Regions from separate parts of the Homo sapiens genome. Here region 2 is linked to region 1. The links come from fine-mapping of genetic effects on gene expression. A gene starts in region 1. The other region holds a variant in brackets. All regions are shown on one strand. Distances are from middle to middle. Region 1 holds the start of FCER1A (Fc epsilon receptor Ia). Region 2 has its middle 42 kb from the start of FCER1A.

The links. PIP is the estimated chance that this variant, and not a neighbour inherited with it, causes the effect. A credible set is the group of variants that fine-mapping cannot tell apart.
Region 2: its variant is the best candidate, but not a certain one, in a credible set for the expression of FCER1A in whole blood (INTERVAL, PIP 0.64).

What each region holds. Positions count from the first base shown.
Region 1 is chr1:159,291,087-159,305,633 of GRCh38, forward strand. It overlaps FCER1A (Fc epsilon receptor Ia), which reads left to right and starts at 11,250. Exons shown (of 5, transcript NM_001387280.1): 1 at 11,250-11,333; 2 at 11,768-11,788; 3 at 12,842-13,096. The coding sequence starts at 11,279.
Region 2 is chr1:159,251,990-159,267,824 of GRCh38, forward strand. No RefSeq gene overlaps it. Among named protein-coding and RNA genes, the nearest start is that of FCER1A, 42 kb to the right of the region's middle. The variant T/C (reference allele first, on the strand shown) is at 7,145.

The DNA.
Region 1 (14,547 bases):
AACTACCAAGGAACAGCTAACACAAATCTTACTAGCACAGTAGAACATGGCAAGGAATAGAATATTCTGCACAGTAACTATTCACTTCAAGGTTTTCTCTTGGCTTAGTTTTACCACAAGTGTATCTTGAGCATGTTTGTTCTCTGGTTTTCCCCTGCTTTTGTGTATTTTCTCTTTGTCATCTTCTTCCACCAACCTTTGAAAGTGATCAAGTCCTAGATTTACTGTTAATTTTATTTATTACAAATTTAACATATCTTTTTAACTGCATAGTTCATTTGGTAGAAATACTAATGTTTATGTTACTGCTCTGATGGTAGGTTTTCATGATCTGTAACAGTCTTTTTTTCCTCTCAAAGACTTGTTAGTTTTAGTTATTTTTGCAGAATGCAAAACAATTTAAAAAAATAAATGTATGTTACATGTTATGGCAGAAACACCTGTGTTATGTTCAAGAAAGATTTAAATTGAATGAGTGAAAGCCACTTCTCTCTTCTTGATTATGCAAGGGCTTAACTTCTTCAATTATTTAACTTATACTTCCCTTATTCCCTCTCTGCTTACTGAATTATTCCTGTTAGCTAACAAATACAATCCAGCATCTTATATAAAACAAGAATCCTCCCTTAACCCCACATCTTCCTATACCACCATCCCACAGCAAAACTTCTCAGAATATTGTCCGCACATGTTGCCTATGCTTCCTCAATTCCTATTCACTTTTTTAGCCCACTTCAGTTTGCTTTTTACACATATTACTCCACTGCCATTGCTAAAGTCCCAAAAACTTCCATATTGCTAGATTCAGAGGATAATTGTATTCTCTATTTTACTTCACCTCTCAACAAGATTCAATGTAATTAACGATTTCCTCTAGAATTGTACTCTCTTCTTGGTTTTAGTGACATAATTCCCTGTGAGTTTTCTTACCTTATCAGCTGTTTTCTCTAGCCTCTGTTCTGGGTCTTCTGATACTCATCTTCAAGATATTGAAATTTCCTAGAGTTCTGCTCTGAGACTTTCTCTGTTGCTTAATTTCTTTTTCTCTCTCTTCAGCTGACCTCATCTTACTCAGTGGCTTTAAAGTATGCCAGTGATTCTCTACTTTCTCTACTTTATATCTCTAATATAGACATTTCTACTGGTCTCTCAACATTTTTTTTGTAACTGCCTATTTAGCACAGACTCTTAGATACAATAAAGATGCTTCAAACTAAAACACTTCCCAACCGGAACACTTGGTTGATTTCTCCCCCAATTCTAGTACTTCCCTTAAATATAGTACTTCCCCAGTCTTCACCATGTAATTACTGTCTACCCAGTTATTACAGCCAGAAATTTAAGAATCATATTTTATACTTTCTGTGCCCTCCAATCTGTCAGTAAGTCCCATTAATATATATACCTCAAACCCATCAACTTTTCTTTATCTATACTACCACTTCTCTAGACTATCTATCATCATATTTTGACTCTTAAGCATTTCCCAATATCTGCTCAAAAAACCTACAGATTACATGACGACATACCTATCTATATATAGATAGATCGGTAGACGTTGAGAGAATGTGGGTGTATACACATATACTATACATATACATGTCTATGGTTTGAGTGTTTATCCCCTCCAAACTTCGTGATGAAACTTAATTTCCAGTATGGCAGTATTGAGAAGCAGGACCTGTAAGAGGTAATTGGTTCATACAGATTCTGCCCTCATGAATGGATTAACCTAATTATGAATTAATAGATTAATTGAATAATGGGTTATCATGGGAGTGAGACTGGTGGCTCTAAAAGAAGTGGAAGAGAGACTAGAGCTTACAGGCTCAAGCCCCCCTTGCCATGTGAATCTCGGTGCCACCTCGGGAATCTGCAGAGAGTCCCCATTAAGAAAGAATGTCCTCACCAGATAGACCCCTTGACCTTGAACTTCACAGTCTCCAGAACTTTAAGAAATAAATTTATTTTCTTTATAAATTTCAGTCTCAGGTATTCAGTTATAACCACAGAAAATAGACTAAGACATACATGAAGAGCCATCAAACTGTATTAAGCAGGGGAATATATATACATACACACTGTGTGTGTGTGTGTGTGTGTGTGTGTGTGTGTATGTGCATTCTTTTGCTTCACACAGTCCGGTGGCTCTTTCTTAGCTTTCAAATAAAATCCCAACACTTTTTCATGTTCTTCCAGGCCCTCATGATCTGGCCCCTATGTGTATCTCCAATCTCGTTTTATGCCATTGGCCTTCTACTCGCTATGCTTCAGCCCTAATGTCCTTCTCTTAATTTCTTTTTTTTAAATTTTATTATTATTATACTTTAAGTTTTAGGGTACATATGCCCAATGTGCAGGTTAGTTACATATGTATACATGTGACATGCTGGTGTGCCGCACCCATTAACTCGTCATTTAGCATTAGGTATATCTCCTAAAGCTATCCCTCCCCCCTCCCCCCACCCCACAACAGTCCCCAGAGTGTGATGTTCCCCTTCCTGTGTCCATGTGTTCTCATTGTTCAATTCCCATCTATGAGTGAGAATATGCGGTGTTTGGTTTTTTGTTCTTGTGATAGTTTACTGAGAATGATGATTTCCAATTTCATCCATGTCCCTACAAAGGACATGAACTCATCACTTTTTATGGCTGCATAGTATTCCATGGTGTATATGTGCCACATTTTCTTAATCCAGTCTATCACTGTTGGACATTTGCAACCTACTCATCTGACAAAGGGCTAATATCCAGAATCTACAATGAACTCAAACAAATTTACAAGAAAAAAAACAAACAACCCCATCAAAAAGTGGGCGAAGGACATGAACAGACACTTCTCAAAAGAAGACATTTATGCAGCCAAAAAACACATGAAAAAATGCTCACCATCACTGGCCATCAGAGAAATGCAAATCAAAACCACAATGAGATACCATCTCACACCAGTTAGAATGGCAACCATTAAAAAGTCAGGAAACAACAGGTGCTGGAGAGGATGTGGAGAAATAGGAACACTTTTACACTGTTGGTAGGATGGTAAACTAGTTCAACCCTTGTGGAAGTCAGTGTGGCCATTCCTCAGGGATCTAGAACTAGAAATACCATTTGACCCAGCCATCCCATTACTGGGTATATACGCAAAGGACTATAAATCATGCTGCTATAAAGACACATGCACACGTATGTTTATTGCGGCACTATTCACAATAGCAAAGACTTGGAACCTTCTCTTAATTTCTACAATTCTCCAAAGTCTTTCTTTTTATGGGGACTTTCAACTTCCCACTGCTTGAAAATTCTTGTTCCAGCCTTTGTCTTGTTTCATCCTATCTCGTACTTTAAGTCTCTACTTAAAAGTCATTTTTCATCAAATGGCCTTTCTTAACCCTATTTAAAACAGATTGTCCTTGTACGTCTATGGAGCAACATTATTTACTTTTTACAAACGTTAGTCACAAGCTGTCACTGTTCTGTTTACTTATTTATTTTCTGTTTTCTCCAATAGAAAGTCTTCTCCCCAAGGGAAAAGATCTTGTCTGCTTATTATCTCTCTTGTATCACCAGCAAATGACAGAGTGCTTGGAATATAAATACTTGTTGAACAAAGAAATGAAAATATATGATGAAGAATGTTCCTATGCTGAAACTAAATTTTTGTGTTAGTTTTAGTGACAGAAAGATCAAGTAACAGGTCTGTATCCATATTTAAGCCATTTCTTTATTTGTCCATAATAATTCAAGCTCAGAGATTGCCTGTTTGGAAAAGTATATTATAAAAAACACTATTAATAAACTTCAAGACATAGTTTGCTCATTCTGAAAAATTAGAAAATATAATTAGCCAAAATTCTACCAGCAAACTATGATCAAATGCTAACTTTAATGAGATAGCCCTTGATAATTCTGAAGTTATCTTTTTTCTCTTAAAGATAAATTGGCATCATGAGATTATTGAAATATATGGTTGATTAGTATAAATTCAATTTAGGAATTGAGAATACAAAAAATTATTTATTTTACATTCTCTGCTATAGACTTCTAATTAACTCTTGCCCCTTGGGTCATGCAGAGAAGATTTTCTTCATATATCTTTCTGCAACGTGACTGTGCTATTACCTATGATAAAGAGGGTTGTTCTGTGTTTGGCAGCCTATTCTAGGGTGGGCCTTGTGTCAGTTCCTTTTTTTGTCCACCTGTCTCTGAACAACATAAAACCCTCATTCATAGGTGCAGCATGACTTAATTTGTCGGTCACTAGATGCAGTTGTAAATTGCAAACAAAAAAATGGAAATGCAGATGTTGAAATAAAGATGCAATTTTTGGTTATGAAATGGTCATCTGAATGATCCATATTTATATTCATTTATTTATTATCAATGAAAAACGTACAAATTTTCTAATTAAAAAACTTACAAATTCCTAATTATAATAAACACTATTCTACGGGAATGGCCACCAAAATGTCCCAAATTTTATGTCACTGAATCTATTTCTAATATTCGGTCTAATAGTCTAATCACAGACACTCAATATTCATTTGTTTTCTTGAACCTCTATGATAATCTGCAAGTGTTTCCCGTTTTGGAAGAGACAAAGGAAAAAGCTGTGATGAATATCACTGGAAACTGCGGATCAGGGCCCCTATTCCATGTTTCTCTGGCCCTTTTTTCTTCTTCAGAATTTAGCAGTGGTTTTCAATCCTATCAGATCACATTTGATAGCATGCATTTATTCCTGTGTTTGTAAGGCATAAACCTGTAACCACACTACAAATAGTGAGAATATTGCTGTGAAACTGCATACTCTATGCACTCCCAACAATCAATAATAGAAAATAAGTGGTGCTCAATGATGCTAGAGAAAAGAATAAATTATATTTCTAGTTTGTCTATAAAAATGATATTACAATATCTCTGTCTGAGGAAGAGGAGATCAAATAACATGTAATAACAATATTTTGAAAAGGAAGAGGATAGTGGAATATCTGTTTACTTTCTGATGAATTTTATAATGTTTATGTCATTTGTCAGCTGGTATATTTTTAACCTTTTGTGATTAACTTTCTTGTCCTAAATAGTAATTTTAATATCTAATATTGTATTCAAAAATTTCTACTGGATTTTTTAAGGAAGCCCCCTTAAACTGTTTAAGTTTCAGGGCCTCAAACTGGATCTACCTCTGCTACTTACACACACATATATTTTTTAATCAGTAAAATTCCCAGTTTTAATATAAAGAAGAAATAAAGGGAAATAACATTATAATAGGAAAATATGTCCTTCATGAATATGAGTGCTACAAAAACAGACTGATATGAGAATAAGGTATTGGTGACACAAATATCATGAACAGTGTAGCTACAGGTGATCTGATTTTCTGAAACAGTGAAAAATTCAAGGATGTTTTTCCAGTAAAAGCCAAGGATAATCTTTCCTCAATATACATGGTAGTTTCTTTTCTGTAAAATACAGTATGTATGAGAAATGCAAAAGATGCTTTTGTGTTTTTCACAGTCGTGTTTAAGGCTCAGATAATTATAAAATATCTGGCTGCACATTGAAAAGATGTGCAGAATCAGGCCAATTATTTAGTATGCAAGGCTGCCTTCAGTATTGCAGGGCATTTGTTTGCCTGCTAATGCTACAAATGTCTCCTGTATACTCATCATTGAAACAAGCAACCCTCAATACACATACATACATTCTCATGCATAAACTTACATTTCCTAAAGGCCTTTTGTAGGTGGTAACACAGAGTATGATGAGAAAGTTTCAGAATGCGTCCTGCCCCTCCCACTGTTCCCATCCTCACTCATACCCTCTTTCACGCACTAGAAACACACGGGTCACAGAACTGTTTAGCCAGAGTCCTGAAAAATTAGGTCTTCAAAAGTTGCCTATTAAAATGCAAATGTCCTGGTCTGGGCTAAGATCTCTCATCCTTGTCTGTTAACGGCCTAAAAGGATTCCTTTAAGAGATTTCTCTTTCCGTTTTGAAACTGTGTAATTCTGTAAGGAAGCATAAAATAAACCTGGCCTACACTACATTCGGCTTGAGGGCTGACTCTGCACAATGGGGATTTCTCTGTCTCGTACCACACCTGAAAATGATCTTCAAACTTCCTAACGCCACTTCTGCAGACATGCGTGTGTTGGAGGTGTGGGTGTGGTTATGTGTGTGATGATGTCTGTCTCATTGACATGATTACTGCTGTGTGATCCTGGCTGCATCCTGTGAGAACAAGGTTTTGCCTTCTGGACCCACCAGTGGCCTTCCAGGTTCTTCATCCTCAGGACAGACCAGGAGGATGGGAAAGGAGGCTCTCTCTCTGCTGCTCTCAAGTCTAACCAAAGGCTTCTTGCAAAATAATTATAGTATTCATGAAAACTAGTATATGTTCTGTTCTAACCACCTCACCACATTAACTCATTTTATGCTGATAACCACCCTTAAGGTAGGTACTATTACTATCTCCATTTTACTGGTGAGAAGGCTGAGGCAAAAAGAGTTTGAGTGGTCACAGCCGAGACTCAAACTTTAGAGCTTGTTCCTAGCCTGAACTCTTAATTAATCTTGCACTTAATTTCTTTAAATTATCTATGGCTAAACTTTTATTTTTATTCTTTTAATTTTTAAAAATTTAGTGTGATATTCTGGTATTTTTTTTAGCTGGGTATGGTGGCACATCCCCATAATCCCAGCTTCTTGGGAGGATGAGGTGGGAGGGATCACTTGAGCCTGGCAGTCCGAGACTAGCTTGGGCAGCATAGTAAAACCCAGTCTCAAAAAAAATTTTTTTTAAAGAAGGAAAACTTTTTTATACTACAACTTTCCTTAAGGATCTTCCTCAGTGGGCTTATAATATTGTTCTCCCCATTATGAAGAAAATGTCAGCTCACTTAACATCTGTATCTGTTGGAAGACATGAAGGTAAGTTTGAAGCCCTTTGGGCTTCTTGGCTGAAATATACTATTTATAAGGTAGAGGTCATGATCAATTTGTTTGAGTCCACCTTATGGTTCAGATTGTACCCTTAACTACAAGACACCACAAAGATGCTTCATCGGCAAAGTGTGAGTGGCTGATTACATATCTTGAAGACAGGCAGCTTGATATCTAGATGCCCACACCTATGCACTATAAAAGAGTGTAGATTATGCTCAGTGATACGCCTTGGATGTTTTCTCCCCTCCAAATCTCATGTTGAAATGTGGTCCCCAATGTTGGAGGTGGGGCCTAGTTGGAAGTGTTTGGGTCATGGAGGCAGATCTCTTATAAATGGCTTGGTGCCTTCCCCATGGTAATGAGTTCACATGAGAGCTGGTTGTTTAAAGGAAACTAGAACCTCCCTTTTCACTCTCTTCTTTAGTAGTCCTGGGAGTTTCCATTTATTTCCTTTGGATTTATTACTTTTAGACCCATTCAGGTCAAGACAAGAAGTAAAAAATATTAAAGTCACTGACTTTCTTGTGAAAATCTAACAGGCAGTCAGCATCTGCTATTGATGCTCTTTCTTGAGCAGAAACTCCTGTTCAGGGTAGCAAAAGAAAGTAAATGCAGCTGATATCCTCCTGGCCCTAATATAGAGGAAAAAGGAAAGAATCCCTCTCTCCTTTCTTCTTTTTAGGCATGTCCATGAAATATACATAGCTAACATACCAACAGTACCAACATTGTGTGGCTGTGAGTTGAGATGTCATGGCCTGAATTAAGAAAGGGAACTTATAGAACAGAAAGTTGGTTTAGATCAGTGATTTCCTATTTGTGGGTTATGGAACCCTTGAATCCAAGGAATTTCTGCATGAGGACTATGAATCCATGTGCACTTAATCACAAAGTGTAGACTCAATGAATAAAGACATCTTTATCTATCTATCTGTCAATCAATCATCTATCTATCTGGTCATGAGCATGTGCTCTTAAGACATATTGCCAGGTTCAAATTCTAATTCCTTTACATAGCAACTGTGTGCCCTGGGACAAGTTACTTAACCTCTCATGCTTTGATTTCCTTATTCTTAACTACATAGAGTTGGTAGTAGGAGGAAAATAGATAGGACATGTTGCATAGTTAGCCTTGTATTTGATCCTCAGGGAGAGATCAACATTTGTTAGGTACATAAATATCACGAGCAGACAGGCATTTTGCACTTTCATCGTTTCATATTCAATTTTATATGGACCTCACCTTGTTTTAGAGAACTTTGAGAGTGAGAAGGAAGCCAGCAGATTGATTTGGTTTTTCTGCTTCCCAGTTTTGGAGAAGGACATAAAGGCTAACACACTGTATAGGCTGAGCCTTGATCCTCCCTCTGCCAGGCACGTCCCGAAACACAAAAGTTCCTGCCCAAAGCCTCTCACGCTGGATCCAGTTGCAGGGGCACCTCACAGTCCTCAGGCCCTGTAGCTCATGTACAGCCATTTGTTTCATTTTTCCACTGCTACAAAATGAAATATAGATTAAGGCTCCCAACATCAAATAACAGGTCCAAGTTTGGGCATAGTGATACTCTTTGTGTATTGAGCATTCCTGTACCCAGAATCAGAAGCAAGAACTGAAATTTAGACACGCCCTATTGATTTCAGTGAACGTGTGTTCCTGATGTGGACAGGCTGGGTATGAGAAATTAGTAGCAGCCCACTCCACCCAGATAATGGATATGAAACTTGAAGGACTTTTTTTTTTATATATAAGATAAAAAACCTGTGGCATTCAACTGTGTATCAGCCCGTTCTTCCAGGGAGGAATAGAGCTCTTGTTTAATGTTAGTGTTAATGTGTTCCTTCTGTGTTCTTGTTCTGTTCTTTTGGGTACCTGTAGTTATATGCTATGGAAATTAGGGTATGGCTTTTTCTTTCCGATGCTGTTAATGGTTTGCTTTTTTGGGGTGGGGGTGGGCTGGGAAGATGGGTAGTTTGGTTGCTTTTTAGGCTTTAATGAGCTGCTTTTATTGGACTGCTACATTTTTGCTGTTACTGCTACCAAAGCACTTCCTTTATTTCAATACCGGGCACTTAAGCAAAAGCTTTAGAATGATAAATCCAAAGTTTCAGAAAGCTTTAGAAATGAAAGTGGCCTCCCTAACTCCAAAGCTTATACTCTTCGAACTAGGAATAGTACCTCTCGATGAGCCCTGCTCCATCTCCCATCTAAGTAGGAGCTATTTAGATAACGACTTCAGAGGAAGCCTTTAAATAGACTATTTGAGTCATGGTAAAATGACTCTCTCTGAGGGACAATTTGATTGTAGGTTCACTGTCCTAGGAAAAAGGAACCCAAATTTCCCCTGGCAAAGTCTCAACAAACTGGTAAAGTAGAATCTTTCCCCGTCTCTTCCAGGGCTTAGGGCTTCAAATATTGCCCTCTGACAGCACCTTAAAAACTACATCTTCCCTATTTCCTCCTCCTTCTCTTCTCCAATCCTATCCAACAACTTTCTGCATTCTGTTCTTTCCTGATTATGCTCTCTTCTTTGTGACTGTGGAGAGGATTGAGATTGCGTAGATATATTAAACTAGCATAAGATGTTGTTTATCAAATTAAACATACTATGTAGGTTGACAATAACTTTAATCCAGTCAAAATTCATATTTCTCCTATAAGTCTTTAATAAATAATGATAATAAAGAAGACAAAAAATGTATTTATTGACCATATTTCACATGTCAGATGCTGTGCAATGCATTTTACTTCTTTTTTATCTTATTAAATCTCATAATATAACCATGACCTGGATACCATTATTGTCCCTATTATACAGGTAACCTTCAATCACATAAAAATTAGGAACATTTGAATTCAGAGCTTAAAACACAAACAACTTGTACTTTTCAAAATAACTTGCTGTTACCTTTAAGGTCTGTCATTAAAACATAGCATGTCCTGGGCTCAGTACCTAATCTTTCTTATCTGAAACTTAAATTCCTATTTATTAACCTTTTTAGCCCTATATTTTCTAATTCCATAGAAAACTAAAGGTTTTGGTTAGATCTTCATGTGGAATGACTGGTTTCATTCAATAGACTTAATTCAGCAGTCTGTGGGGAAGAGCAAGGTATGATAGAATGGTTCCTCAAGTGCTTCAGATGTGAAGTGGGTTTAAATATACTGTCCCTGTCTTCTTCAGAGTTTTGGTAAAGATAAAATAGGACACTCATTTAAAAGCAATCTTTGCAAATGACAAGCCACTATAGACATTAATAGAGTTTTCATTTCCAGTATTATCATTAATATCAGATCCTGGAAGAAGGTTGAGCCTTGACCTAGAGCAAAAAAACAGAAGAATTAGTAAAGGAATCCTGGAGAAAGCCCCTGCTGTGTATTTAAAGGAGAAAGGGAGATCATGTTGGGAAATTATAATATTAAAAGTAAACAAAAGCTAGGAAGTAAAATAAAATAAATTATATGGCCTAGATCCCCATAAGTAATGGTTTAACTTCTGCCTTCCTGTGTTCTGAGCCAGATTAGGGCACAGTAGAGAAAGAGGAGTCTCTGAAAATGTTTCCAATTTCGCTGGTCAGACAGCGGATCATCAGTGAATCAGATGAAAATTTGTGGATTTATGCACTAACTGATCAGCAGGAAATTAAACAAGAAAAGCGTTGGTAGCTCTGGTGAATCCCAAAAGAATTTGGCAGTTGCTAGCCATGCTCCTGAATATGTATAAACAGTACATCATATGACTAAGAGTTTGACTTAGGGGTTAGATTTTATGTGTTTGAACCCCAAATTAGTTATTTAATAGTTGGCACCCCAAAACAAGTTACTTAACCTCACTAAGATTCAGTTTTCCTGTTTATAAAATGTAGATAGTGATAGTATGTACTTTATAGGATTATTGTGAAAAATAAATGAAATATCAGATTTATTTAGGATAACACCTGGCATATGTTTGGTATTCAGTAATTAGTTGCTGCTGTTTTATTCTGCTCTCCCTTGCATCCCACTTTTCTAAGTTGTAAACTAAATAGTTGTACACAGATTGACAGATTAAGAAAGGCTTGTGATTGTGCTAGACCTATGCCTCTCTCTCACCAGATTCCAGGTGTATATGTGGAGGTGGGATAGGGAGTGGAGTAAGTGGGTAAATATTAAATTGCCCAGTTGGGCACCATCCTGAATATTATCTCTAAAGAAAGAAGCAAAACCAGGCACAGCTGATGGGTTAACCAGATATGATACAGAAAACATTTCCTTCTGCTTTTTGGTTTTAAGCCTATATTTGAAGCCTTAGATCTCTCCAGCACAGTAAGCACCAGGAGTCCATGAAGAAGATGGCTCCTGCCATGGAATCCCCTACTCTACTGTGTGTAGCCTTACTGTTCTTCGGTAAGTAGAGATTCAATTACCCCTCCCAGGGAGGCCCAAATGAATTTGGGGAGCAGCTGGGGTAGGAACCTTTACTGTGGGTGGTGACTTTTTCTAGGACATGTGCAAACTATTGGGCATTTCCCAGGGACTCTGTAGTGGAGCCAAGCTAGAAAGCAGAGGCAAGTGGGCTGAGCAACACCTAAGGAGGAAGCCAGACTGAAAGCTTGGTTCCTTGCATTTGCTCTGGCATCTTCCAGAGTGCAAATTTCCTACCAAGGAAATGAGGGTAGAGGAGAGAAAGAAGCTCTTTCTTCCCCTGATTCTGATTCCTGAAAAGACGGTTGGTCCTTAAAATTCCATGGATGTAGATCTTATCCCCACACCCAGATTCTAGTCCTCTGGAGATAAAGAAGACTGCTGGACACTAATGTATCCTCTCTGGACTTTTGCAGCTCCAGATGGCGTGTTAGCAGGTGAGTCCTCTGTTCTTGTTCCCTTGGTGTTTCAACATGTCTGGGCATTGCTTTCCTCTCACTATTTTCTTCGTCCCATCACTTCTGCTTTCTAATGAGCATGAATCTGTTCCTTGGCCAGACTACTTTCCCTCTCCACCTTGCCTTGTCTTTCTTTTTTTCCCTGATTCATTGCATTCTCTCAAGTCATTCTCTCCTCTGTTTTAGTCAATAACCATGTCTGTTGCACATATACATGTCTCATTCTCTCTCCTAGACACTTTGGCATGATCTCGCTCAATAATTACATTATTATTATTATTGCCATTTTATAATTGAGGATGCTGAAACTCAGTGATTTTCTGGTGGTTACATGGCTAAGGAACTGGATTTCAACGTAAGTTCCTTGGATCTAAGTCCAGTTCTCTTCTGACTATATCACCCTTTTGTTATCACCATGTATCTACTTCTTTGGTCTCTGTTCAAATTTGCACTACATCCCCTTGTTCCAGGAAGCCATTCAAGACTGACTTTCTTAGTGCCTCTCACTACTTTCTGGAACTGACATATGTTTTTCACTCTGTATATACTTACAATTAAATAGTCATAAATATTCAGAGCTTGGAGAAACCTTATATTTCATCCAGTCCAGTAAATTTATCCATCCATAATTCACTCATTCATTCACATAATAAATATTTAATGTAACAATGGTTGAACATGGCAGACAGTGTTTCTACCTCAAAAGAGATTGCAGTCCTCATTTACAGATACTGAATTGAAATTAACAGAAGTAGAGTGAGTCAGCTCAAATCACATAGTGAATTGGTTTCTTTGTTTTTAAATCTCCTGCATATGTGTCCTGTCTTTCTCCCTGTGTTGGGCGTTCCCTGGGGCACCAATACTAATTTCTCCTTCCCCTAGAAATCAAAACAGGGTCTTATCACCAACAGAATAAGGACAGGTTGACCACTGATTGTCAGAATATTGCTTCGTTTGTACTTTTAAGCCTAGACAGTTTTCAATGACTTTTTTTCTCTCTACATGTCTTTTCATATTTTTATCTTCTTGAAGTCCCTCAGAAACCTAAGGTCTCCTTGAACCCTCCATGGAATAGAATATTTAAAGGAGAGAATGTGACTCTTACATGTAATGGGAACAATTTCTTTGAAGTCAGTTCCACCAAATGGTTCCACAATGGCAGCCTTTCAGAAGAGACAAATTCAAGTTTGAATATTGTGAATGCCAAATTTGAAGACAGTGGAGAATACAAATGTCAGCACCAACAAGTTAATGAGAGTGAACCTGTGTACCTGGAAGTCTTCAGTGGTAAGTTCCAGGGATATGGAAATACAGATCTCTCATGTGAGGGATGGCTCATCTGAAGATGGGAAAAAACAGGTTATTCCAAGGGTTAGGACACCAGAGTGGGATTCAAGGCCTCTCATTTTTAAGACCCCTGCATTGGCTGGGCACAGTGGCTCACGCCTGTAATCCCAGCACTTTGGGAGGCTGAGGCAGGTGGATCACGAGGTCAGGAGATCGAGACCATCCGGCTAACATGGTGAAACCCCATCTCTGCTAAAAAATATATATATATAAAATTAGCCGGGCGTAGTGGTGGGCACCTGTAGTCCCAGGTACTCGGGAGGCTGAGGCAGGAGAATGGTGTGAACCCAGGAGGTGGAGGTTGCAGTGAGCTGAGATCACGCCACTGCCCTCCAGCCTGGGCTACAGAGCAAGACTCCGTCTCAAAAAATAAATAAATAAATAAAAAAGACCCCTGCATCTCTTTTCTTCTACCCCCTTCCCTTTTGATTACTTGTATGCCTTCTTTCAATATTCTAGTCATCTCTCAATATTATTCCTCCACCCTATTTTCCTCTATCTTTTCTGCCTAGATTCAGGTATATATTATGTGGTCAAACAGCATGACATATATGTGAACATTTCAAAGAGCTGTGTATCTGGAATAGGATCAAAAGGTTTGACTTAAAGTTTTGCTCTGCATAATCCATATGGCAGGACCTGAATATTAGGTTGTACTCTTCGTTATGAAACATATCTGGGTACATTTCCTTATGTCCTCTGTTGTTACTTAAGAACACATATTTCATGCTTGTTTCATTTTTATCACTCCTACTGCCAACAAATAGCATAGCATGCTTAGGCACATGTGGCTTAATTAGCAAATGTTGAATAAACAAATTAATGATTTTGAATAGTGACCAATAGGTCTCTTTTATACTCTATATTTTTCTCTTGAGTGAAAAAAAATGTTTCAACCTCCATATGTAAATTCCAAACACAAACTAAAGCAATGTAGAATAGCTTCTTTATTCCCTGGAGTAGGTTCTAGAGAAGTCCTAAAGGATTGGTCCTAAATTAATTATGCTTATTATGCTAGCGATATTTCCTTTCAAAATTCTCCTTTAATGAATGCTTTTTAATTTTTACAAAAGCATTAACCATAGAATGTGATTCTTGTCTTTCACTGACTCATTAGTGACAAATATTTGTTGAGTACCTACCAACTCCTAAGTATTGCTACCAACTCCTAAATACTGTGTTGGGCATTCAGAATAGAATGTAGAACTAGACAGGGTCCCTGACTTCTTGGAGCACAGAGCAGTATGGGAAGAGGACATTAAATAAAGAATTACATAAGTAATTAATTTAAATTATACATGTTTTGAAGAAGTTTTTTTTTGACAACTATAATTAACACTAGAACTGGGAAGTTTCTATAAGGTAAGAGAGGACAAAATAGACACTCTCCT
Region 2 (15,835 bases), 38 kb before region 1:
CAGACGTGAGCCACCGCACTCTGCCTCAACAGATATTTTATTCCCCCTGGGGTGGCGCTCCCAGAGGGAGGGACAGGCTGCCATCTTTGCTGTTTGGGCAACTTAGCCAATTCAGCCTTCAGGCTTTGGAGGTCTGAGCTGACCGGGGCAGAAGGGATCCTCCAGCATAGCGCAGCTGCTCTACCGAAACATGGCCAGACTGCTTTTTTAAGTGGGTCCCTAATCCCATTCCTCCTCACTGGGCAGGACCTCCCAACCAGGGCCTCCAGCCACCCCCACTGGTGTTGTCTGGCAGACAGAGATTTGTAATCTCCCTGGGACAGAGCTCCCAGAGGGACGGGTAGGCCACCATCTTTGCTGTTTGGACAACTTAGCCATTCCAGACTTCAGACTTTGGAGTTTTTAAGGTGACCAGGGGTTGAAGCAGATCCCCAGCACTGCACAGCTGCTCTACCAAAACATGGCCAGACAGTATTTTTAAGTGGGCCCCCAATCCAGTTCCTCCTCAGTGGGCAGGACCTCCCAACTGGGGTCTCCAGCCACCTCCTACAGGTGCCTTTGGGCCTGCAACCTCCCTGGGACAAAGCTCCCAGAGGGAGGGACAGGCTGCCATCTTTGCTGTTTTGTAGCCTTCACTGGTGATACTTCCAGGTAGTGGAAAATCCAAGTTGACTAGGGACTGGAATGGGCCCCAAGCATACCATGGCACCCCTGCAGAAAAGTGGCCAGACTGTTATGTGGATGCCCATTCCCATATGTCCTCACCAGGCAGGTCCACCACGCCCAGGCCTCCAGCCACCCCCCGCCAGAGCTATCGAGCCAATAACAACTTGGCAATGCTCTGGACAGAACCTCCAGGAGCAACTGAAAGCCTCTGCTACTACGTCTGCAATGGAACTGCCCTTGCCATCCTTAGACAAAGGAGCAAAGACCCTAAGTGCCTTATCCATATCTCCAACAAGCTGTGGTCAACCCAAGGAGAGAAGGCCAGTCCATCTCCCATAGGTTCCCCACACCCCTGACTGGTTGTTGTAAGTCAGGGAACCCCTGGCACACATTTCCCTCTATAACCCTCCACCTTGGGCTGATTGCACTGAGCTGTTGCTGACCTGCATCTCTCTGGGGTGGAGCCCCCAGGAGACAAGCAAATGACACTTTACAGATAGCAATGAAGAGCATTGAGATTCAGGAGATGGCAAAACCCAGTCTAAGGAAAATAAGAATCACAATAAAGCAATACAGGAGCTGAAGGATGAATAGCTGGTGTTAAAAAGAACATAACAGGTCTGACAGAGCTCCATAACACAATACAATGATTTCACAATGCAAACACACGTATTAACAGCAGAATAAACCAAGTAGAGGAAAGAACATCACTACTTGAAGACTAGTTCTCTGAAATAGACAGACAGTTCTTAAAAGTACAGTTCTTATAAGTAAGAACATGTAGCAGTTGGCTTTCTGTTAAGAAACCAAAATTTGGTTAAGAATCAAATACTGCATGTTCTTACTTATAAGTGATAGCTAAATGATGAGGACACATGAACACATAGAGGGGAACAAGGCACACTGGGGCCTACTGGAAGGCAGAGTGTGGGAGAAGGGAAAGGATGAGGAAAATCAGGAAAAATAAATAATGGGTACTAGGCTTAATACCTGGATGATGAAATAATCTGTCCAACAAAGCCCCATGACATACATTTAACTGTGTAACAAACCTGCACATCCTGCATATGTACCACTGAACTTAAAATAAAAGTTAAAAAAAAAAGAATAAAAAATAATGAACAAAAGCTCTGAGAAGTATGGGAGTATGTAAAGAGGACCATACTATGAATCATTGGCATCCCTGAAAGGGACGGGGAGAAAGCGAACAACTTGGAAAACATATTTCAGGATATCATTCATGAAGACTTCCCCAACCTTGCTAGAGAGGCCAACAGTCAAATTCAGGAAATACAGAGGACTTCTCCAAGATTCTACACAAGAAGATCATCCCCAAGACACGTAATGATCAGAAATAAAAGAATGTTAAAGGCAGCTAGAGAGAAAGGGCAGGTCACCTACAAAGGGAGCCCCATCAGGCTAACAGCAGACCTCTCACCTGAAACAAGCCAGAAGAGATTGGGAACTTTATATTCAATATTCTTATAGAAAAAAATATCTTTAACCAAGAATTTCATATTAAGCTTCCTAAGTGAAGGAGAAATAAGATGTTTTTCAGGTAAGCAAAATTGAGGGAATTCATTCTCACCAGATCTGCTTTACAAGAGATCTTGAAAGGAGCACAAAATATAGAAAGAAAAAACCACTACCAGCTAATACAAAATACACTTAAACACACAGTCTGGTGTTAACATAAAGCAACCACACAAACAAGCCAAAATAATAATCAGCTAACAGCACAATGACAGGATCAAATCCACACATATTAATACTAACCTTGAATGTAAACAGGCTAAATGTTCCACTTAAAAGGCAGAGTGAGGCTGGGTGTGGTAGCTCATGCCTGTAATTCCAGCATTTGGGAGGTTGAGGAAGGTGGATCACTTGAGGCCAGAAATTCAAGACCAGCCTTGCCAACATGGTGAAACCCCATCTCTACTAAAAGTAGAAAAAAATTAGCTGAGTGTGGAGGTGCATGCCTGAAATCCCAGCTACTAGGGAGATTGAGGCATGAGAATCACTTGAACCCAGGAGGCAGAGGTTGCAGTAAGCTGAGATCATGCCACTGCACTGCAGCCTGGGTGACAGAGTGAGACTCTGTCAAAAGAAAGAAAGAAAAGAAAAAGGCATAGAGTGACAAGCTGAATAAAAAAGCAAGACCTAATGCCAATGGTATGCTGTCTTCAGGAGATCCATCTCACACATAATGATACTTATAGGCTCAAAATAAAGGGATGGAGGAAAACTTACCAAGCAAAATGGAAAACAGGAAAAAAAAGCAGAGATTGCAATAATAATTTCAGACAAAACAAATTTTAAACCAAAAAACATAAAAGACGACAAAGAAGGGCATTACAAAATGGTTCAACTCAACAGGAGGACCTATCCTAAATATATGTGCACCCAACACAGGAGCACCCAGATTCATAAAGCAAGTTTTTAGAGACCTACAAGGAGACATAGATATCTCCTAATAATAGTGGAAGACCTCAACACTCCACTGACAGTATTAGACAGATCACTGAGGCAGAAAATTAACAAAGATATTCAAGACCTAAACTCATTAGTGGACCAGATGAATCTGATTGACCTTTACAGAACTCTCCACCCAAAACAAGAAATATATATTCTTCTCATCACCACATAACACATGCTCTAAAATCAGAGCAGAACTGAAGGAAATAGAGACACCAAAAACCCTTCAAAAAATTAAGTAAGCCACATTTTGTTTTGGTTTCTCAGTGCATATAAAAGTTATGTTTACATTATACTGTATTCTATTAGGTGTGCATTATGTCTAGGAAATGTGTATAGCTTAATTAAAATATGCATTATTACTAAAAATGCTAGCAATAATCTAAGCCTTCAGTGGATTGTTATCTTTTTGTTAGTGGAGTGCCTTGCTTCAGTGTTGATGGCTGCTGACTGATCAGAGTGGTGGTCCCTGAAGGCTGAGCTGGCTCTGGCAATTTCTTAAAATAAGACAACAATAAAGTTTGTCTCATTGATTGACTACCTTTCATGAAAGATTTCTCTGTAGCATATGATGCTGTTTGATAGCATTTTACCCACAGTAGAATTTCTTTCTAAATCGGAGTCCATCCTCTCAAATCCTGCCACTGCTTTATAACCCAAGTTTATGTACTATTCTAAATCATGTGTTGTCATTTCAACAATGTTCACAGCATCTTCACCAGGAGTAGTTTTCATCTCAAGAAACTACTTTCTTTGATCATGCATAAAAAGCAACTCTTCTTTCATTAAACTTTAGTCATGACACTGCAGCAATTCAGTCACATTTTTAGGCTTCACTTGTAATTCTTGCTGTCTTGCTTTGTCTACCACATCTTCAGTGACTTCCTCCACTGAAGTCTTGAACCTTTCAAAGTCATCTATGATGATTGCAATAAACTTCTTTCAAAATGCTATTAATGCTGGTATTTTGAGATCCTCCTCCTAATCACAAATGTTTTTAATGGCACTTAGAATGGTGAGTCCTTTCCAGAAAATTTTCGATTTACTTTGCCCAGATCTATCAGAGGAATCAGTAGCTATGGCAGCTATAACCTTACAAAATGTTTTTCTTAAATAATAGGACTTGAAAGTAAAAAAGTATTCCTTGATTCATTGGCTGCAGAATGAATATTGTGTTAGCAGGCATGAAAACAACATTAATCTCTTTGAAATGACTCCATCAGAGCTCTTGGGTAAACAGATTCATTGTCAAGGAGCAGTAATATTTTGAAAGGCATCTTATTTTTTTTTCCTGAGCAGTAGGTCTCAACAGTGGGCTTAAAATATTTAGTGAACCATGGTGTAAACAGATGCACTATTGGTCAGGCTTTGTTCCATTTATAGAGCACTGGCAGAGTAGATTTGGCATAATTCCCAAAAGGCTCTAGAATTTTCAGAATGGTAAATGAGCATTGGCTTCAGCTTAAAATCACCAGTTGCATTAGCTTCTAACAAGAGAGCTTGCCTGTTCTTGAAAGCATTGAAGTCGAGCATTAACATCTCATCTCTAGCTATGAAAGTCCTGTATTAAATTTTCTTCCCATGTAAGGTTGTTTGTCTACATTGAACATCTGTTGGTTAGTGTAGCCACCTTCAATTATTCAATTAGGTATTTTCTGGATCACTTGCTGCAGCTTCTACATCAGTACTTGCTGCTTTGTCTTGCACTTTTGTGTTATAGACACACATTGAAAAACAAACAAAAATAAAACCAGAGAGCTCCGCTGGCTTCAGACTTTCTACTGTAGCTTTCTCATCTCTCTTGGCCTTCACAGAATTAAAGTTAGGGTCTTGTCCGGGATTAGGTTTTGGCTTAAGGGAATGCTATGGCTGGTTTGATGTTCTATGTTGACCACTAAAAGTTTCTTCATATCAGCAATAAAGCTGCTTTGCTTTATTTTCATTTGTGTGTGCACTGGAGTAGCACTTTCAATTTCCTTCAAGAACTTTTTCTTTGCATTCACAACATTGCTAACTGTTTGTCACAAGAGACCTAGCTTTTGACCTGTCTTAGCTGTTGACATGCTTTCCTCACTAAGCTTAATTATTTCCAGCTTTTAAGTTAAAGTTAAAGAAGTGCTATTCTTGCTTTAACTTGAACTCTTAGAGGCCATTGTGGGGTTAATTGGCTAATTTCAATATTGTTGTGTCTCAGGAAATAAGTAGGCTGGGGGAGAAGGAGAGAGATGGGGGAAATACACACAACATTCATTGATTAAGTTTGCTGTCTTACCTGGATACAGTTCATGGTGCCCCAAAACAATTACAATAGTAACATCAAAAATCATTGATCACAGACCACCATAACAGATGTAACAATAATGAAAACATCTGAAATACTATGAGAATTACCAAAACATGAAACAGAGACATGAAGTGAGCACACACTGTTGGGAAAATGGTGCCAAAAACTTGCTTTATGAATTGCCACAAACCTTCAATTTGTAAAAAGCACAATATCTGCAAAGTGAATCACAATAAAATAAGGAATGCCTGTAATAAACAGAACCCTTTTCTAAAGGTAATAAACCCAAGATAACAATTTGATAAGCATACTATCTATATTTTATACTAGCACTTAACAACTAATTCTTGTCAATATAAAAAATGTAAAGGAACTCCCAGTAAAATAAAACAGTTACCTGATACAATGGAAGCCAATTCATCTTAACTGCAAAGCTGAATGAGAAAATGTGTGTTTAATCAGTAATTTCTATGAATTTTGATCTTACTGATAAGAAGCCTTTCATGACTCGGTTGCTACTCTACACCAACCTCATTTTGGATGATCTCTGATCCTTACTAAATACTTTCCCCTCCCATCCCTGAAGTTAATAAACTCATTTGAAACAAAAACTTTTAGTAGGAGTTTTGGATATTTGAGAGACATAGTTATCTTCAAAGTCTGGTATGCTTCTCTGTCAATGGAAGTTGGTGGCAACAGGTTTCTCTGCTTAGGACTTAATTGAGATGAAGAATCAGGAAGACCCTGAAGAATTAGCATTCTGTCTGGATAGGGGAAAAATCATATTCAAGGTAATCAAAGAATTTTTGGGGGGAAGAAAAAAAGGCAATACTTCGGAATGCCAAAAAAAGAGTGTATTATATATAGTCAGTAAGCCATGGCTATGATCAAAAACACTTACTGATGGCAGAAATAATAGACCACCTACTGAAAGCAAAATAAAACAAAAATGGATGTCCTGTAAGAAAGATAAATGGAAGGGCTCAGTCCTAAAAGGCTGGCCAGCATTTGAGAGATAGTGGTTTGAACATTTTGCGTGTAAAGAATTTAAAACATAAACTTCTCAGAGTCACTTTGTATTAATGGAAGAGCTGTCACTTGAACCAAAGTCTCCCAGCTTTTAGCATGGTACTCCTTCTACTGATAATTCTGCTTTTCCATGCTGTGGCTACTCTACATCTTTCCAAAGAGGAAGACCATTTCCTCTCCCCAATGCTCATTGATATCCCCTCTAGTACCCCAGGGAAGGTAATCTCAACATTTACTAAACTATATGCTGGTTGTTAAATGTATGCTTATTCTTTCACATACATAGTCATCACAGATGTCAGTTGAAATCAACCTGTCCTTTGACATACACATATAATTCCTTAAAATTGGTTCAAATCTACTAATCTATGTCTGATGGGAAGTAAAAAATCCTCTTATAATTTTCAAAAATTCACTAGAAGTTTTATTTATTTTTATTTTTATTTTTTAAATTATTATTATACTTTAAGTTTTAGGATACATGTGCACAATGTGCAGTTTAGTTACATACGTATACATGTGCCATGCTGGTGTGCTGCACCCATTAACTCATCATTTAGCATTAGGTATATCACCTAATGCTATCCCTCCCCCCTCCCCCCACCCCACAACAGTCCCCAGAGTGTGATGTTCCCCTTCCTGTGTCCATGTGTTCTCATTGTTCAATTCCCATCTATGAGTGAGAACATG[T/C]GGTGTTTGGTTTTTTGTCCTTACGATAGTTTACTGAGAATGATGATTTCCAATTTCATCCATGTGCCTACAAAGGACATGAACTCATCATTTTTCATGGCTGCATAGTATTCCATGGTGTATATGTGCCACATTTTCTTAATCCAGTCTATCATTGTTGGACATTTGGGTTGGTTCCAAGTCTTTGCTATTGTGAATAGTGCCACAATAAACATACGTGTGCATGTGTCTTTTGTGTGCTTCCTTCTAGTTCTGATTTCTTGATTTCACTTCACCTCCCTTCACCTTACTTCCTGCGGCTATTGTCTTTTTTTAATCCCACTCCAACACAGAAGAGGAACTCAGCCTATTTTCCTCATTTGCCACAAAGCAGCAGTCCAGCAGATACTTGTTTTTTTTTTGTTGTTGTTTTGTTTTGTTTTGTTTTTGAGATGGAGTCTCTGTCTCCCAGGCTGGAGTGCAGTGGCACGATCTTAGCTCACTGCAAGCTCCACCTCCCGGGTTCACGCCATTCTCCTGCCTCAGCCTCCCGAGTAGCTGGGACTACAGGCACCACCATGCCCGGCTAATTTTTTGTATTTTTAGTAGAGACAGGGTTTCACCGTGTTAGCCAGGATGGTCTCGATCTTCTGACCTCGTGATCCGCCCGCCTCGGCCTCCCAAAGTGCTGGGATTACAGGCATGAGCCACTGCGCCCGGCCAGATACTTGTTTTTAATAGCAGAATTTGTAGGAGGAAAGGATAAAGAAAGGTTACATTACAGCACCACACTGCAAACTGTTTCTATATTAATATCCGATAATTCTTAAAATTCTTTAACCATCACCACTCATTACAATCTCTCATTGTACCACATTTCTCCATAGGTTGTCATCTATGTCATGTTACTCAACCTCTTCCTGCAGCTCTTCCTCTCTTATTTTCTCTACTTCCAGAGGACCACCAAAATCCAGGTTAATTTTTATGCAGAGAAACTTAAAATATCTTTGCATATTTATTACTCTATAAACAAGGACCTGGGGTGTGCAGGAGGGAGAGGAAGGGGGAGCTCAACATTACAACACTGTGGCCTAAATAGGCATTTTGTTATGGAAAAGACAATTTGCTCCAAAGAGGAGGGACAAGTGGTTGAAGAAAGAAATTTATTTAAATGGCATTGTTTTTGTGATTTTTTTAAAAATATATCACATCATAAAATTCTGAGACAAGATCCTAAGATAAAATCCTAAAACCAGGATTTTTTTCTCATCAAGTAAAATAGGTAGACCAGAATTTGACTTCAGTTCTCTGTACAGGTACCTACAAAGGGTGGATTCAGATTTTGAATACATGAATATTTAGTTAGAATGAGAAAAGATGATTTTGTATAAGCGGTCTGTGCCAATGAGAGAGAAGTTTTATTAGCTTCTCATTACATCCACCTCTGAGCCTAACCAGAACCTTAAGTCTATAAGTTCATGTAAGGCTCAGCAGATGCGTACATTTAACTACAATAAAAATAAGTCATCTTCTCAACTGATCTAACCCAGGGCACCCAGGTGCCCTATTGTACTTACAGAAAGCTATTCTGTATACAACTTTGACACTGATTAATTTTTAAAAAGTAAATTAAAAATTGGCTCAGTTGGAATAGAACTTAACATTAGTACAACCCCCCTCCCCGTGCTGGCCTTGCTTTTAAAGGCCTTGTTTAGTGAACAATCTTCTTAATTAACTGATTTTCAACAAAGGTCCCAAAACAATGGAGAAAAGACAGTGCTTTCAATAAATGGGACAGGAAATACCGGAGATACATGAAAAGTAATGAAGTTCGACATCATATACAGAATTAGAATAGATGGAAGACCCAAGTGTAAGAGCTAAAACTATACAATTCTTAGAAAAAGATGAAGTAAATCTTCATAACATTGGATTAGGCAATGATTTCATAGACATGCGCTAAAAGTACAGGCAACAGAAAAGAAAACAGATAAATTGGAATTCATCAAGATTAAATACTTTTGTGCATCAAAGGACACTAACAAGAGAGTGGAAAGACAACCTACAGAAAGGGGGGAAATATTTGCATATCATACATCTCAATATCTGATAAGAGATTAATATCCAGAATATGTAAAGAACTCCTACAACTTTTTTAAAAAGCAAAAAAAATTCCAGCAGTTAATATGTGAGCAAATAACTCAAATATGTATTTCTTTAATGAAAATATACAAATAGCCAATACAAGCACATGACATGATGTGCAGCATCACCAGCCATCAGGCAAATACAAATCAAAACCACAATAAGATACCACTTCTTTGGCATTAGGATCATTATTATATTAATAGCAACAGAAACAATAGAAAATAGTAAGTGTTGGGGAGGAAGTGGAGAAATTAGAACCCTTGTGTGTAACTGATGGGAATGTAAAATGATACAGCAACTGTGAAAAACAGTCTGGTGGTTCTTCAAACAGTTAAAAATAGAATTACCATATAATTCAGCAATGCTACTCCTGGGTATATACCCAACAGAATTGAGAACAGAGAATCAAACAGACACTTGTACACCAATGTTCATAGCATACTCACAGAAGCCAAAAGGTAAAAACAACCCAAATGTCCATCAAAAGATGAACGAATAAATAAAATCTGCTACATACACAATGGAATATTATTCTACCTTAAAAAGAAATGAAATTCTGGTACATGCTGCAACATGGATGAACTCTAAAAACATTATGCTATGTGAAGTAAGCCAGACACAAAAAGACAAATATTTTATGATTCATTTAAATGAAATGTTCAGAGTAGGCAAATCCATAGAGACAGAAAGCAGGTTAGTGCTTGCCCAGGACTGGCAGTCAAGAAGAAATGGAGAGTTATTATTTAGTAGGTACACATTTTCTGTTTGAGATTATGAAAATGTTATGGAAATAGTGATGGTTATACAACACTATGAAGGTACTTAACATCACTGATGTACACTTAGAAATTGTTAAAATGATACATTTTATATTATGTATATTTTATCACAATAAAAATTAAGTATCTGGGAAGGTTTTTTTTATTTTTCCTGCCACTTTTCTGTAAATCCAAAATTATGTCAAAAGAAAAGGTCATAAGAATAAAAGAAAGCCTAATAGTTTAGGATGATGTCATCACAATAGGTGGTGCATATCTCCTTTGACAAGAGCACATAATTCTACAGGGCTAATCCCAAATCTCTCCATTAAAGGACTATCTCTACCAAACTTGCCCCCAAATGAATGCTGCTTCCACTTCAGGGTGATCTTTGTTTTCTGTTCAATTGAGTATCCCTTTCTCTCCTGGGGCTTCTCTTCTACCTAGGAGTTCTACAGTTCCTCCAGCGGGTGCACATGGATTGAAACAAGAGTCTTAGGATGGCTTAACAATGCCCTCTCCATAGCCAATAGACAGACTGTAGGCTTCAGTTTTACATGGATATAGAAAGACCTTATTGTCTTGGTCCAAGTGCTGTAGAACAAGGGGTTTTAACCATAGGTCAGGTTGATATGTAAGATTTCTCTAGAACCAGGAGAAATACTATAAAATTCATATTAATCATATGTTAACATCTGACTATCTCCGCATAGGGCTTATTACATATAGGGCTTGCAAATATGGGTTATTTACATATGATATTGCAATGAAAGATCTTATATGGTGAATTCTTTTTCCTAACTTACTTTTTTGGTTCTGTCAACTCTATTCCAGGGACATAAGAAAGGTTAGTTTATTGAGTGCAATGAGCAAAGGTTGTGAAACCCTATCTTCTTTTTTTCCTTTCATACCTAGTCCCTGGGCATTTTACCCTTATACTCAAAAAATTCTTCCTGTGGAGTTGGATGTGGCTAATGATAAATGCATTGATTATTTCTGTTGGTCTATGATTTGGTTTTCCTGAGTCTCTATCATTCCTCTTCGGGTAAGAAATAGAAAACTTGAATTAATAGGTGTAAATATTACTTTTTTGTGTCATATCCTCCCCAATCCCTGGTTATCTGTTCATAAGAAAGGGGTCAAATCCCTGTTTGTTCAATGTACTTGAAGCTGTCATCTCAGATGCTGAGGCTCAATCTCATGGACTTACCCCCTTTTAAGGCAGAGGTGGGTGTGTAATCATTTTGCGCTCATCCACTTAATTTTATTTAGTAGGAATAGAAGGAATACAACTTTCTTCCAGCCAATTGTGACTGGAAGTACACATTCATCTATAATTTGCTAAACCAACATGTTCCCTTTCAAATGAAGCATATTTAGTGAGTTTTTTCTCCTTTCCCTAAAATGAGATAATCATAGCAAGAGTTGTTTTTGAGAGAACAGAAAGTTATATTCATTATCCTGCTTTACAAACAAGAAAATTAACACAGGGAGATGAAATGACTGACTCAAGGTCACATAGTGAGTCAGTGGCAGGGCTGGAAATAAAATGCAAGTAATATAGAATAGGCATGCTATTATCCTTTCTGCTTTGAAAAATTTTTCCTCCCCTCACCTCCCTCATTTTTTATTGTACAGATTTAGGGTATACAAAAAGATATTTTGATATACATATACATGGTGAAATGATTACTACATGTACACAACTAAAGATACCCATCACCTTCCATAGTTACCTCTTTCCCGCATGCACGCGCGCATGCATGCATGTGTGTGTATGTGTGTGTAACAGCACCTAAAATCTACTCTCTTAGCAAATTTTAAATATAAAATTTAATATTATTAACTATAATCCTCCTGCTATACATTAAATCCCTAGACTTATTTATCTTACATAACTGAACGTTTGTACTCTTTGACTTACATCTCCTCATTTTCTCCCCCTCCTTTTCCCTAGTAACTAACCACTGCTCTATTCTCTGTTTCTCTGTATTTGACTTAAAAATATTCCATATGTGAGATTGCACAGTATTTTTCTTTCTGCATCTGGCTAATTTCACTTAGCATAATGTCCTCTAGCTTGATTCATGTTGTCACAAATGGCAGTATCTTTTTTTAAGGCTGAGTAATATTCTATTTTGTGTGTGTATGTGTGTGTGTGTATCACAATATCTTTATTTATCCATCGACTATTTTCGTATCTTGGTTATTGTGAATTATGTTGTAATAAACATGAAAGTGCAGGTATCTCTTTGAGGTATTGATTTCATTTCCCCTAATACCCAGAAAGGGACTGCTGCATTATATGGTATTTCAATTTTTATTTTTTTGAGGAACCGCCATACTTTTTTGCATAATGTATGTCCAAATTATAGTTCCACAAATAGTGTACAAGGGTCTTCCTTTCTCCAAATCCTCACCTCCATATCTTTCATTTTTTGGTAGTAGCCATCATAACAGATATGAAGTAACATCTCATTGTGGTTTTGATTCCCATTTCCTCAATGATTAATAATATCAAGCACCTCTTCATATACTTGCAGGCCATTTTTATGTCTTCTTTGGAGAAGTATCTATTCAGATTCTTTGCCCATTTTAAAATTGGATTTTTTTTTTGGCTAGTGAGTAGTGTGAGTTCCTTATATGTTTTGAATATTAGCCCTTATCAGATATATGGTTCACAAATATTTTCCCCCAATCCATAGGCTGCTTTTTGATTTTTTTGATTGTTTCCTTTGCTGTGCAGAAGCTTTTTTAATTTGTTGTAGTCTCACCTGTTTATTTTTGCTTTTGTTGCCTGTGCTTTTAGTGTGATATTCAAAAATATCATTGCCAAAGTCAGTATCAAGGACCTTTCCCCCTATGTTTTCTTCTAGGAGTCTTTTTTTTTTTTTTAATACTTTAACTTTTAGAGTACATGTGCACAACGTGCAGGTTAGTTACATATGTATACATGTGCCATGTTGGTGTGCTGCACCCAGTAACTTGTCATTTAACATTAGGTATATCTCCTAATGCTATCCCTCCCCCCTCCCCCTACCCCACAACAGGCCCCGGTGTGTGATGTTCCCCTTCCTGTGTCCATGTGTTCTCATTGTTCAATTCCCACCTATGAGTGAGAACATTTGGTGTTTGGTTTTTTGTCCTTGCGATAGTTTGCTGAGAATGATGGTTTCCAGCTTCATCCATGTCCCTACAAAGGACATGAACTCATCCTTTTTATGGCTGCATAGTATTCCATGGTGTATATGTGCCACATTTTCTTAATCCAGTCTATCATTGTTGCACATTTGGATTGGTTCCAAGTCTTTGCTATTGTGAATAGTCCGCAATAAACATATGTGTGCATGTGTCTTTATAGCAGCATGATTTATAATCCTTTGGGTATATACCCAGTAATGGGATGGCTGGGTCAAATGGTATTTCTAGTTCTAGATCCCTGAGGAATCGCCACACTGACTTCCACAATGGTTGAACTAGTTTACAGTCCCACCAACAGTGTAAAAGTGTTCCTATTTCTCCACATCCTCTCCAGCACCTGTTGTTTCCTGACTTTTTAATGATTGCCATTCTAACTGGTGTGAGATGGTATCTCATTGTGGTTTTGATTTGCATTTCTCTGATGGCCAGTGATGATGAGCATTTTTTCATGTGTCTTTTAGGAGTTTTATGGTGTCTCATCTTACATTTAGGGCTTTAGTCCATTTTGTGTTGATTTTTGTATATGATGTAAGATAAGGGCCCAGTTTCATTCTTCTGCATATGGAGATCCCGTTTTCCTAAGACCATTTATAGCAAGATTCTGATGAATATTTTCCACATGAAGATGAAATCAGCTCTTCTTTCCTTATCTCCTGAAAGCAGATCATCATGAGTGGTATTTTCAGAACACTCTAATTATTTTTTATGTTACTAATTGTTTCCCTGGAAGAGTTTGTGCACTGGTCAGAGTTCCCATTTGAAGGAAAGCCAGAAATGGTAGCTGTTTTGGGAAACATACCATGTGGGAAAAGAGTAGCTCATTTCTGAGCAGATAGTACAGAAATATTAAAGCTTTTAAAACTACTAATATTTTATAACTTTTAAATATCTAATGTCATAATTAATCTCATTCAACATTTATAAAACTTTATGAGGTAGCTTTCTTTTTTTTAATAAAAAATCCCATTTTACAAATGAAGAAACTGAGGCTCATGGAAGTATATAACTTCTTGACGTTCACACAGTTAGAAAGTGCCTAGCCAAGGCTGTTAGCTCTGCGGCATCATCTCTCCTTCTGGCAAATAGGCCTCGGACCTTTTCTCATTCTCATAAAGTAGGGGTGATGGTGTTCCCTTTGTGCAGGTAAACCAGCTCTCCTTTCTCTGGACCTAGGAATTTCTGGTATTTGAAAAATCATTTCTCCCATTTTCTACCACCCCTCACTCTTCCCACGCTAACTCTCTCTCCCCATAAAGAACCCTTTAGTCTATCTCTACCACTGTTTTTCTAGGTTGGGAGCATATACCTAACTGAACTCAGCAACTACTTGACTGTGCCATTCCTCCCAAGTAAACATGGAGAGCTGGGAGGACTCTTGGGGACTGCAAAAGTCCTAGAAAGGGAGAGACACCTACCACCTGGCTTCACATACTCTTCTTTGAAGGACAAAGTCTTTGTTCCAGCTGATAGGATTCAAGTTTATATATAAATGAATAGAAATGCTTTTTCCTCCTTGAGCACTTGTTTCAGGTGTTGTGACTGCACCACTTCCTGTAACTTCTCATTTCCTGTTTTCCTCTGAGAAAGCCTAACATGTTAGACAAGGAAACAGGCTCTATGTCTTCATGAGGGTACAGCCTCTCTAATACTTACTATCTGTGTTTCCAGATCTTGGGAAAAAGTGAATATGAAGGACTACTATCTTCTCAGAAAACTGACATAATTCCCTACATAAGGCCATTGTGGGCTTCGAAATGGAAGAGATAGATAAGGGCCTCCGTTTCTTGACCTTGCTCCTTTAATATGGAACCTAAAGACATCCAAGTGCATATCAGTTGAGCAAGTCTGTTAGTGGAGATCAGAAGCGCCAGCTCATGACTAAGCCACTTGGAGAGTTTACCACAGCAAGGTGGTTTTGACTGTTATACCACTTTACATGGTTTTTATTCTTATTCATACATTTGTTTCATATATGTCCATAATAGGTCATTGGTTAAGGCTACAGATCATAAAGAATATTCATGTTGAAATATAAGTTAATGAAGAGGGGCACATGTTCTCAGAACCTCCTGAGGGCTGTGTCATGGGCAAAAAGAAATATATTTTAAAGAAAAAAGTTAATAAGGAACATAAAAATGATCACTTAGAAAATCCATGTGATGATTAAAATTAAAATTAAAAATAACAATTATAAACATTTTAAATTTTCAAAAAGTTATAAAACTATATATTAGATACTACGTGTTCACCATGCCATATTTGTCATAATTGTTTCCTACCTCTTTTTTTATAAGTAGTAATATTTATAGATGTAGTCAGAAATTCACCTCCATCCTTTCCCCTTCCTTACTTCCTCCTTTCTCAGAGGTAACTACTATATTGAGTGTATATAGAGTATTCCTTTGCATGTTTATACCTTAGTACATATGTCTATATCTATAAATATTCGATCTTATTTTAAGTTTATGTATGTATTCTATTTCTAAAATTTTTCCATATTGATTGTCAAAAATATCTTAATCTAAAAAATATTTTATAGTACATCAAGATGTTAACACTTAACTAAACCCTAGTAAATTAAGCACTTGAAAACTCAGCATGAATA